2 separate regions of the Homo sapiens genome follow, and region 1 is linked to region 2. The links come from fine-mapping of genetic effects on gene expression. A gene starts in region 2. The other region holds a variant in brackets. All regions are shown on one strand. Distances are between the middles of the regions. Region 1 overlaps DTHD1 (death domain containing 1). Region 2 holds the start of DTHD1 (death domain containing 1).

What was found. PIP is the estimated chance that this variant, and not a neighbour inherited with it, causes the effect. A credible set is the group of variants that fine-mapping cannot tell apart.
Region 1: its variant is the best candidate, but not a certain one, in a credible set for the expression of DTHD1 in testis (GTEx, PIP 0.79).

The regions. Positions count from the first base shown.
Region 1 is chr4:36,317,417-36,322,807 of GRCh38, reverse strand. All of the region lies in intron 8 of DTHD1 (death domain containing 1), which reads right to left. Among named protein-coding and RNA genes, the nearest start is that of DTHD1, 38 kb to the right of the region's middle. The variant T/C (reference allele first, on the strand shown) is at 3,266.
Region 2 is chr4:36,278,702-36,284,092 of GRCh38, reverse strand. It overlaps DTHD1 (death domain containing 1), which reads right to left and starts at 2,477. Exons shown (of 10, transcript NM_001170700.3): 1 at 2,064-2,477; 2 at 1-117. The coding sequence starts at 2,334.

The DNA of each region.
Region 1 (5,391 bases), 39 kb before region 2:
TTTGTGAAAGGAGAAAGGCTGAGGCACAACTTCAGAAAGATTTAGTGGTGAATCATTATTCTTTTCAGCCACATATTTTCAAATATATTGTTTGTGGGATCATTTTCAGAAGATTATATAGAATATGAAGTATCACCAGGACGCTTACTATCTTACAAACCTCATCATCTTTCTGTGGCCCTCACATGCGCACTGACCATCACAGCCTTCCTTCGAGTCCTTGACTTGAAATGCGTGCCCGTCTCGGAGTCTTGGAACTTGCTGCGTCTCCCACTTGGATGCTCTCCTGGCCATACAGGAAGGTTCTGGTCTCCGGTTGCTCCTCAGCTCGGTAGTCCCCTCCACAGTGAGGTCTTCCCTAGCTATCCCACCTACCAACTCACACCACCAATTCTGTCCATCTTCTAATGCTAATTTATTTTCTTCCTTGGCACTTCTCACTGTCCTCCTCACATTTTTGGTCCATAAAATGCAAGTTCTATTTATATATACCCATTCACTCATGTTTATTGAGCATCTAACTTATGCCTGACACCATTCTAGGTACTTGTGATTTGGCAGTGAACAAAAAATGTTCCCCGTCTTCACAGAGCTTACTTTCTAGTTATGGAAGAGAGGGTTTTTCTGCAAGAAATGTACAAATGAAGAAACACATGTAAAAACGGAGAAATGACTTAGAGGGAAAAAATAGGGCAGATTAAAGAGGATTAGGAATGTCAGGTTGCAGGGTAAGAGTAGATTGCAATGTTAGAGTCAGGGTAAACCACAGAGAGAAGGTGAAGTTTCAGCAAAGAACTGAAGGAGGTAAGGGTAACAGACATGCAGATATCTGATGGAAGAACATTCCAGCAAGGGGAATCACTAACACAAAGACCTAAAGCAGAAGCAGGTGTGGCATATTCCAAAAACTCAAGAGGGTCACTGTGGTTGAATAAGTGAGGAGGCGAGTAGAGCAGAGAATGCCTTGGAGTCAGTGAGGGCCAAGTTCACACAGAGCCTTTATTCTGATGGAAGCTGGGAGCCACTGAAGGGTTTGGGGCAGAGGCATGAGATGATTTGACTAATGCTTTAAGGCAGTAGTCCCCAACTATTTTGCCACCAGGAACCAGTTTCGTAGAAGACCATTTTTCCATGTTGGAGGGATGGTTTCAGGATGATTCAGGCAAGTTAAATTTATTGTGCTCTTTATTTCTATTATTATTATATTGTAATATATAATGAAATAATTATATACCATAATGTAGAATCAGCGGGAGCCTTGAGCTTGTTTTCCTGCAACTAGAAGTTCCCAGCTGGGGGTGATGGGAGACAGTGACAGATTATCAGGCATTAGATTCTTGTAAGAAGCACACAACCTAGATCCCTGGCAGGTGAATTTCACAATAGGGTTTGCACTCCTACAAGGATCAAATGCCGCCACTGATCTGATAGGAAGCAGAGCTCAGGCAGTAATGCAAGCAATGCAGAGTGGCTGTAAATACAGATGAAGCATTGCTCACTTGCCCAACGTTCACCTCCTGGTTCCTAACAGACCACGAACTGCTACCATTTCATGGCCCAGAGACTGGGGACTCCTGCTTTAAGGGATAACTCTGCCTATGAGTTGAAAACATGCTATAAAGAAGAAAGGGAAAAATGAGACCCTACATACCAGGACACCACTATACGTTGAGCCTTTGGGATACACTGTTTGTTGAATTAATTAATATATGAATGAATGAACTACAGAGGCTGAAGAATAAGAGACGCAGAGATCCTCACAAGTATGAAGTAAAAAGTGATATGTCTTCTCATCTTTATGAATCAGACACAGTATATTAACATCACACATTATAATTATGTGTGTGGTTCTATGCCTAGATACATATATGTAAATATTTACTGTTTGTTCTCTGTGAAGCACTTTTAATTTTGACAAATACCTTCACCTATTTTATGCTACATGTATAAATATCCACATAGTGTCATGTTCATTAATGCCAAGCTACTGCTATATTAGGCTACTTCCATTTCCTGAAAAATAGCACATTCTAATACTGCTTAGTTGAGGTGAATTTTTTAAATTCTGATGAAATAAGTCTCATCTTGCAAAACTAAATGTCATAGTTTCAATTCCCATTTAGTTATACTAGTTTGAAAAGAAAAAAGTTCCCACAGCCACAGATTCTTTTTCAACCTGACAAACTTATTTCTGAAGACTTTGGGCACAAGAAAGGGCTCAAAGAGTGAATCTGGAAAGCCCTATACGAACCCATCTGGAATAAAAAGAAAGCACAGATGGCCTATTGGCAGTAGATTCATCTATGAAAGACAGCAGAAGTTTAAATGTACTATTTTTAAACATGCCAATATAGTTTCAGGATTATCAATTTCAAGGTTGAGTAACTGTAAGGTTTGCAGAGATTATCTTGTTCATCTAGTTAGTCACAAATATTTATCAAGCATGTACTATGTGTCCGCACTGGCAATACAGAGTTGAGCTGGACAGTGTCTGTGCCTGCGCAGTTCGTTGCATGCATTCTCAATTTTGGTAATGTCACCCTTGGGGAGAGAAAATTCGTTCTTGGCTGAGACACAAAAAGGCTTACTCTTTCAGATGTATAAAACACAGATAAATATATGGTACATAGACATACAGTATATCCGTGGTAATAAAATTTCACAAGGAGAGGTGATTAGAAAAAAAAATATTTCAGAAAAAAAGACTCCCTGAAAAGCCATTACAGCAACAAGGGAAGGAAACAAGCAAGTGGATGTCATGAAATATGGTAACTACAGTGATAAGGAAAGTACAAAATGCCGTAGCTCCATATACCAGGAACACTTAACCTGGTACAAAGGAGGAGTGAGGGAAGGCTTCCTTGGCAAGGCTGCACTTCAGCACCGATGTGAAAGAGGTTCAGTAAGAATTACTCAGGCACATAGGTAAGGAATGGTGTGTTACAAGCAAAACAGAGAAGAAGCTGACGCAAAAGTACTGGACAATCGTAAACACAGACTTTTACTGAGGAAAATCTATACAAACCCCTAAATTATCTATGTTGGCTAATTTGGCTTGACTAATTTGGCTACTTTTATAAAGTCAGGCAACAGAGGAAACACTAATAAGTGAAAGCTGAATTCCTATCACATTTTTGGACTTCATGTCTGTCGTCTCTGACATAACGGCCTTTCTTTGCATGGTCTGCCATCATCTCAGTAAGGCCCTTACCGCCTCTTGCCAGAGAATTCCAACCACCACTGGCTTGTCTCCCTTTCATCCTCT[T/C]ATGGCAGCAAAGCAACGTGAGGCTTTCTGGAAGCAATGTGCCAGCTGAGCTGCCTGGAGAGCAGCCCTTAGGTACCCCTCTCCACTCCACATCTTCATGCTGATCCACATCGATGCCTTAGCCTGTCAGTTAAGAGTTTGTAGAATCAGGCTCTAAACTACGGAACAGAGAGAATTTGAGTATTCCTTCAAGTCAATAGTTCTTAAACTTTTAGAATCTGGAGACAGCTATAGACCTCCCCTTATTCACCAAGTCATAGATATTTAGGGTGCCTACTATGTGCCAGGCACTGTTCTAATCACAGAAGAAGGAACCTGGATAGAATAGACAGGGTCCTTCATTCATGGAGTTTGCTTTTTAAAGAAGCAAAGGAAAATAGAAAATACATGAACAAATAAATCTAAAAATATCAATGATGAGTGTTAGGAAGTAAATCGAGAAAGGGTAACAAGTTAAAAAAGTGACCTCAGATTAGAAGATAAGGGAATAAGAATAACAAGTGACATCTGAGCTGAGCCCTGAATGATAAAGAAGCAGCTATGGGACTATCTCAGGGAAAATTGCCGCATGCGTAAGTAACGGCCGTATGGTGCAAAGTCTTATGGTGGAAATGAAAATGCACAGAAGAGGCCAGGCATAGTGGCTCACGCCTGTAATCCCACCACTTCGGGAGGCCGAGGCGGGCGGATCACGAGGTCAGGAGATTGAGACCATCCTGGCTAACACGGTGAAACCCCGTCTCTACTAAAAATACAAAAAATTAGCTGGGCGTGGTGGCGGGCGCCTGTAGTCCCAGCTACTCGGGAGGCTGAGGCAGGAGAATGGCGTCAACCCAGGAGGCGGAGCTTGCAGTGAGCCGAGATCGCGCCACTGCACTCCAGCCTGGGCGACAGAGCGAGACTCCGTCTCAAAAAAAAAAAAAAAAAAAAGAAAAGAAAAAGAAAATGCACAGAAGCAAAACTGATAGATGTACACCAGATTGGCTGGCTATACTGTCATCAAAGCCTCATTTTCAGTATCAATGGCTTAATAAATTCCTCTACTTATGCATGCTTCCCATGGACCACGGGATCTCCCCCAAAACAGCAAGTAAAGTTAATGTCGCCAGGAGACTGTTCCTCTGTACTGAGGGCTGCTTTCAAGTTCACTGGTTGGTGTCCAGGTCATATCATTTGTTAAATATTTCTAATATTATCTCTGTACTAAAGCATAGTACAGACATCATACAACATCAAAGGTGTACCTGGATGCCCTAAAATCCATCTTGTATCTTTGACTAATAATCCTAGCTTTATGTGCTAACAAAGTGACAGCATAATAGCCATTCAACACACAGGAAGCAGATTTCTTGGGTCTGAATTTTAGCTCTGCCATTTACTTAGCCATGAGAACCTGGGCAAATTGCCTAAAATTTCTGTGCCTCAGTTTCCCATAAAATAAGAACAATTATGTATCATAGGATTTCTGTGAGGGTTTAGTGATACAATGCATGTTAAGTATTTGAAAGGCCTTTGGCATATTAGACATTATTACAATGGTTATTACACAACTTGTGAATTCCTGCTAAGCTATGCTTACCACCCCGGTCAAATGCATTATATTCTCTCCCCCAACTTGCCTTTTTTCTTCATTTCCACTGTCTGAATTTCCACCAACTTACAAAGCTCAGATAAAATGCCACAAACACCACAAAACTTCTACTGGTTACAGATTATAAAAAAGCCATTTCCCTTCTCTGAACAACTATTAGTACCATCTAGTACCAACTATTAGTACCACTGTTTATATCACCTAAATATAACTTCAATCAGTTACTATTTTACAACGTAATTTTGTGTATTGTTTTGTGTACTTATTCACTGGATTATAAATTCATTTAGAGAAGCACTATTCCATAGACATATAATTTGAGATACATATGTAGTTTAAAATATTCTATTAATAGTAACTATTTAAGATGTTTAAAAAATAAAAGAGGAAGTTAATTTTTATATATTTTATATAACCTCATATAACCAAAATATAAATTTACCATGTAGTCTATGTAAACAAATTATTAATGAGATAGTTTATATATTATTTGTACTGAGTCTTTGAAATGCAGTGTGTATCTTAAACTTACTGC
Region 2 (5,391 bases):
ATTCATCATGCATGCCGCATAAATTACAAATCTCCTTTTCTTCTTTCTTTAGAAGTGCAGCAGTGCTCCCCAAATGTTCAGTTATTTTTATGAGGCAGTCTATGAAAGTAATGATTTCTACACACACATACATGGACACACAAAGAATAAATACAAAACTAAACCAAATTATGTTTCTGCACTGACATCTAATGAAACATGGCAAGATAATTTTAGAAACCTACAAAGACCTTTACTGTGCATTTAAGCCAAACTCCTGAAGGAGAAGTAATTGTATAACTGTCACTCTTTTAACAATTGTAGGATTGACAACAAACCATTTTTAACATGGTAGCAAAGAGTAAATCTAATCCCTCTTGCTTATAAAGATACTTCGAATATTTAAAGACAAATGTCATAACCTCTTGCTCCCCCAATAAGAACTGAAGTCAACATCTCCCTCAATTGTTTTTCATTTGGTATGATTTTGAGAACTCTTCTTTTACCACTGGATGTACAATAGTTTATCAATGATCCATTTAAAATGCTGGGCTGAAAATTAGGCGAACACTCCAGATGAGGCTTGGGTGGCAGAAACACCATACCTCCATTATTTCTGCCAATGTAGATGCTTTGTTTTGGAGCCTAGTTTACTGCTATAAGAATTGGATTAGGTTTATACTATTCCTCCTGATGAATTTGTGAGCATTGGAAATTTTCAAATTAGTCCTTCAGAGAATAGCTCTGACCATACCAATTCTCTGATTGGAACCTGAAGTGGCTACTCAAAGCCTACTAACTCAGGTCAACCTTCTTCACTCTGAAGTAAACTCTTAGCATGATCAAATCTTATATAATCTCTCACTCCGTCATCATTCTTCCCACTCTCCTATTTGTTCATCCTGCTTCTCCTCACTACTGAGGTCACCTGATGACTTCTTGCAGGCTTAGTACCTCTCTAGTCTTTAGAATTCAGTTCTGAACTAAAGAATAGGTAATTTAAGGCCCCATAGCTTAGTGTTTTTAAAGCCATCACCAAATCATCCCTTCACCAGTCAGGGCTTTTCTTTGGGATCCAGTTCTGACAACTTGTGTTTTGTTTTGTTTTGTTTTTGTCTTATACCTGAGAACTTGTCTTTATTTTTAACTCCTATTCTGGTAACCAAGTCCTTGTTTTTTTCTGAATATATATTTGCTTGTTATATTGCCAAAGACCATGTTCCACTCCCTCCAGAGGCTAAAGGTCTCATTGTGGGCTGCAGCTGATGGCTTCTCAGTCATGCTGCCTTTAGACAGATTTCCCTGATGCCCACTATTTGCCCTTTAGATTGAATTTCTTAACATCATCTACCCTGGATTTCCTCATAGATGGAACCTGCCCACTTATCTTGATACTGTATTATTTAGAGTTGAATTTCATGATGCCACCTATATGCTTATCTGGAGTAACTGTTGTTATCTAGGATTATATTCATCAGATTCCACATTCTTCCTGCCTTACTGTACTTTTCCACATCCATAACTGGACCTATTCCCAAGAATCCCTCTCCAGCCCCAGTGCATGGGGATCCAATTCCCTATCCCAACCCACTCCAGTCTTCCCAGTAATTTTGCAATCAATAAGGCTAAGCTCAAATGACCCTAGAGATAGAATACTATATTCTGATATAAAAAACAAACTACTAGCTCTGCCTCAGTGGCCTGTATTTTCCTGTCTCTAAGTCTTGGATCCTACTAAAATTACCGACTCTCTCTTTCCTGCTGCATAAATCCAATTCACTCTTTAAGCTTCAGCTTAAATACTACATTTTTCTAGCAAACTTCTCAATTCCCCACCCTACAGATGGGATTTAAACTGCTTCTGAAGTCCAAAAGCACTTCATTCATGTGTTTCTAATGGGACTGGCCCCAATGTCCCTGGCATTATTGTGCATTTGTCTCAACTTATTTCCCCTTTGAAATTGTTAGTCTCTTGTGGACAGAAACTCTATCTTAGCCTATCTGGTATACTCATAGCCCCTCTCAGATCTTGCCCTAATCAATATTTCTTAGAGAAAGAATAAACTAAAAAAAAGAATACTTGCCTTTTCTCGAGACACATTGATTCTCTTTGTCAAGCAGCACATGCAGCTGCTGGCAGGTGGAACGCAGGGTGCCTGAGGTGTGCTCCAGCAGCTGGTGAAGGGCACTGCTGAGTTCCTGACCCAGAAAGACCACAGTGGCCATCCAAGTGGCCCCACCAGCCCCCTCACAAAGGTCATCACCCAAGAGTGCCTGCTTTAGCATCTGGTTTTGTCTCCAAATCTGCTTCAATATTTGGCCCAGTTTACCTGAGCCCATGTATTCCATATCCATTTTATGATCCAAAAGTGGTATTTTCTCTCCTGCCAGCAAAGCCTAAAGGTTTTGCAAATTCAAACTTTGTGATTGTTATTTCTCCTAAACTCTAGGAGATGATCCGAGTCAGCTAGCCCAGCACTTTCTCACAACATAGTGGTTATTCAGTTTGGTGTTGACTAGTGAAAAGTTACTAGGTGACCGAAGAAGGGGCGTTCCTGTACCATGGGTGCTACTGTGTACAGAATACATTAATCACTGGGGTAGAGCTGACTCACATGATCCAACTCTCTGTGTAAGTTTTACAAATTCAATATACTGTGGAAGTACCAAATACTTTTCAAGTTTTGAGGCAACAAAATACAGATTCCAGGTAGGGTAAGAAGTTTATTAATCAAAGGTAAACTGTATGAACAATATTGCTGGCAGGATTCCTGTAAACTTAAAAATATTTATGAATGAAATAATGTGATGTCTGATTTTGCTTCTAAATAATCAGGGAGCATAGGGGTGGGTAGAGGTATAAAATTTGCTGTAAGAATTAATAAATGTTGAAGCTGGATATGTTTACACATGGGGTCTTGACAATTCACTCTAATTAATGTGTATATGTATAGTATTTTTATAACCAAGAGTTTAAAAAGATTCCTCTACTGGAGCAGAGCCTATTGCATTGGTTAGGAAGTTATAATTAGCATCTTCTTATGTGGTAAATCTGCAGAGACTGAGATAAGAACTTGGCCTCTGATAATTTCCCTCTAATTGGATAAAATGCCCCTTCACTGAAAGAAAGTAAACCTGAAGAGTAGCTTTCTCTAAACTAGCAAGGATTCTTTACCATATGTAATTAAAATTCAGATACAACAAGCTCTCCCCACTGCTGCCCATCTGCCTGCCAGCGCATCATATATGGGGCTATGCAATGCAGCACTTGCGGGTATTTGGAGGAAACCAGAACAGTCTGCCTCCCTCTCTCCAATCCCACTGCTCAGAGAGAACACACACCTAAGCCAAAGGAAGAGGGCAGCAAGTACATTCCAGAGAGGCTCATGTTCCCTCGGGTACTGGAACAAAATGAAAGCTTTTCAAGTGGAAGCCGGAGTGCTTCCCTCCCACAGGCAACACATTATCTCATCTTAAGCCCTGGAGTTCTAAGAGCTACACTCAGGGCACCTGGAAGACAAGATGGGAAAAACAAGCCCAGAGAATAAATAATGAAGAATGACTGCCACTGCCCTAAAGACTGTCAAAGACCCTGAAGGAAAGGAGCAGTATTGAGTACTGGTGGCTGCAGAGTGGAGAGGGGCTCCTTCACCACTAAGTGTCTTATTTTTCAGTTAACTTCTGTTCACTGAAAAGGGGACCTTTTTCGCAGTATGAGTTCATATCACTTCATGGATTGGATCATTTAAATCTTCTCAAACTAAAGACTCACTCATTCAATTCTATTTTCTTTTCTTACTCCTTAAATGGATGTGTCATTCTCAATAATAATGTACACATGGCTTTAATTCAATGCTAATTTTGAAAACTTCCTATAGCATTTACTGTGGGACAGGAACTAAGTGCTGGAGGTCAGGCCTTTTTAGGATTTCAAGAGACAGATGCATGAACAGATTATTGAAATAAAGCTTAGTCTGTGTTGAGAGCTAGAGCAGAAGTATAAAGAAAAAGTATCATAAAAGCTTTGAGGAGTTAAAAAAATAATTCTGCTTAGAGGCCTGGAAAATGTTTGAATTAGAAACTAAAGGATAAGCAGGCTATGGAGTAAAAGAAAAAAAATATTCCAGCATAGGAAATAATATGATCAAAGTCACGGAGGCATGAGATTACACAGTAGGATCAAAAATGTAAAAGTATGGCTTTGGAGGAAGGTTCAGTTAACGAGTCAGAGGTGACAAATGAAGAGTTCAGTAATTGTAGATAGTGAGGAGAAGAAATTAGAATTTTGGTTTACAGATAAGACAGAAATTGAATATATTTGAATCAGACTGCAATGTGATGAAATCTGTGCTGTAGAGATGCAGATGTATTAGATGACAGAGATATAAGAGTTAGGAGGCTCGAAGGTCTGTATAAAACAGCAACAGAGCAGATGAGAGAAGGGGATGGCGTGAGAGGGGATTTGAAGTACAGTGGATAGAACTTACTAAACTTACCAAACCATCAGATTATAGGGAGAGGAATAGAAAGTATTGAAAATGCATTCATTTATTTGAGAAATATTTATTGACCACTAGTATAAGAACTATGCTTAGTATTAGAATATGACTGAAATATTTAATTTAGGTGATTACATAGACTATAAGACTATTAAGGAATTTAAGTGGGATTTTGGGCTCGATGGGTAGATAATTTAATTTTAGATTTGTTGAGTTTGAGGTAACTCAGAAAAATTCCTTAGAATGTGTTTTAAGTTTAAAAATTAGAATAATATTGGCATATTTGAATGTTACCAGTAAATAAGTGGTAAATGAATCCCTGGAAGTAGAAGAGATCAATGGAGAATTTACCATGCACATTTTAAGTATTGAATAAAACTGATAATGAAATACTGCTTGATCATTTGAGCAGTCTACATTTATTTCTAGATATGTGGGAAAATCCTTTCTCAGGAAGAAAAAAACAAACCCAGACATTCTCTTTGTTTCATTCACATTTGCTATCCTCAAGTTTAAACTTGTTCTCTGTTTGGCTTCTTAAGAACATATAATATTTGCAAAGTGAGACCTACCACAGGCCACACTGCATTTACTTGTTAAAACACGCATCAGCATGTTCCTGCACCTTATTTTCCATTAATTGATGTCACTAACCACAGAAAGAACAGACATTTGCAGTCAAGACACCTACAGAAGTTCACTGCAGAAATTCATCTGGATGATTTTAACATTTGATTGTCATCTTCATTGTTGCTACTAGTTATTATGACTCCTTTTACTTTCTTACTGAAAATTCAGTGCTTCCATTGACGTTAGTATGCAGTCTTGAATTCATACCATTATGTGGTCAAAAAGACAACAGTTTTTCTTAACATTAAAAGTATCAGAGTGGATTAGAGATAAAATTCAAATA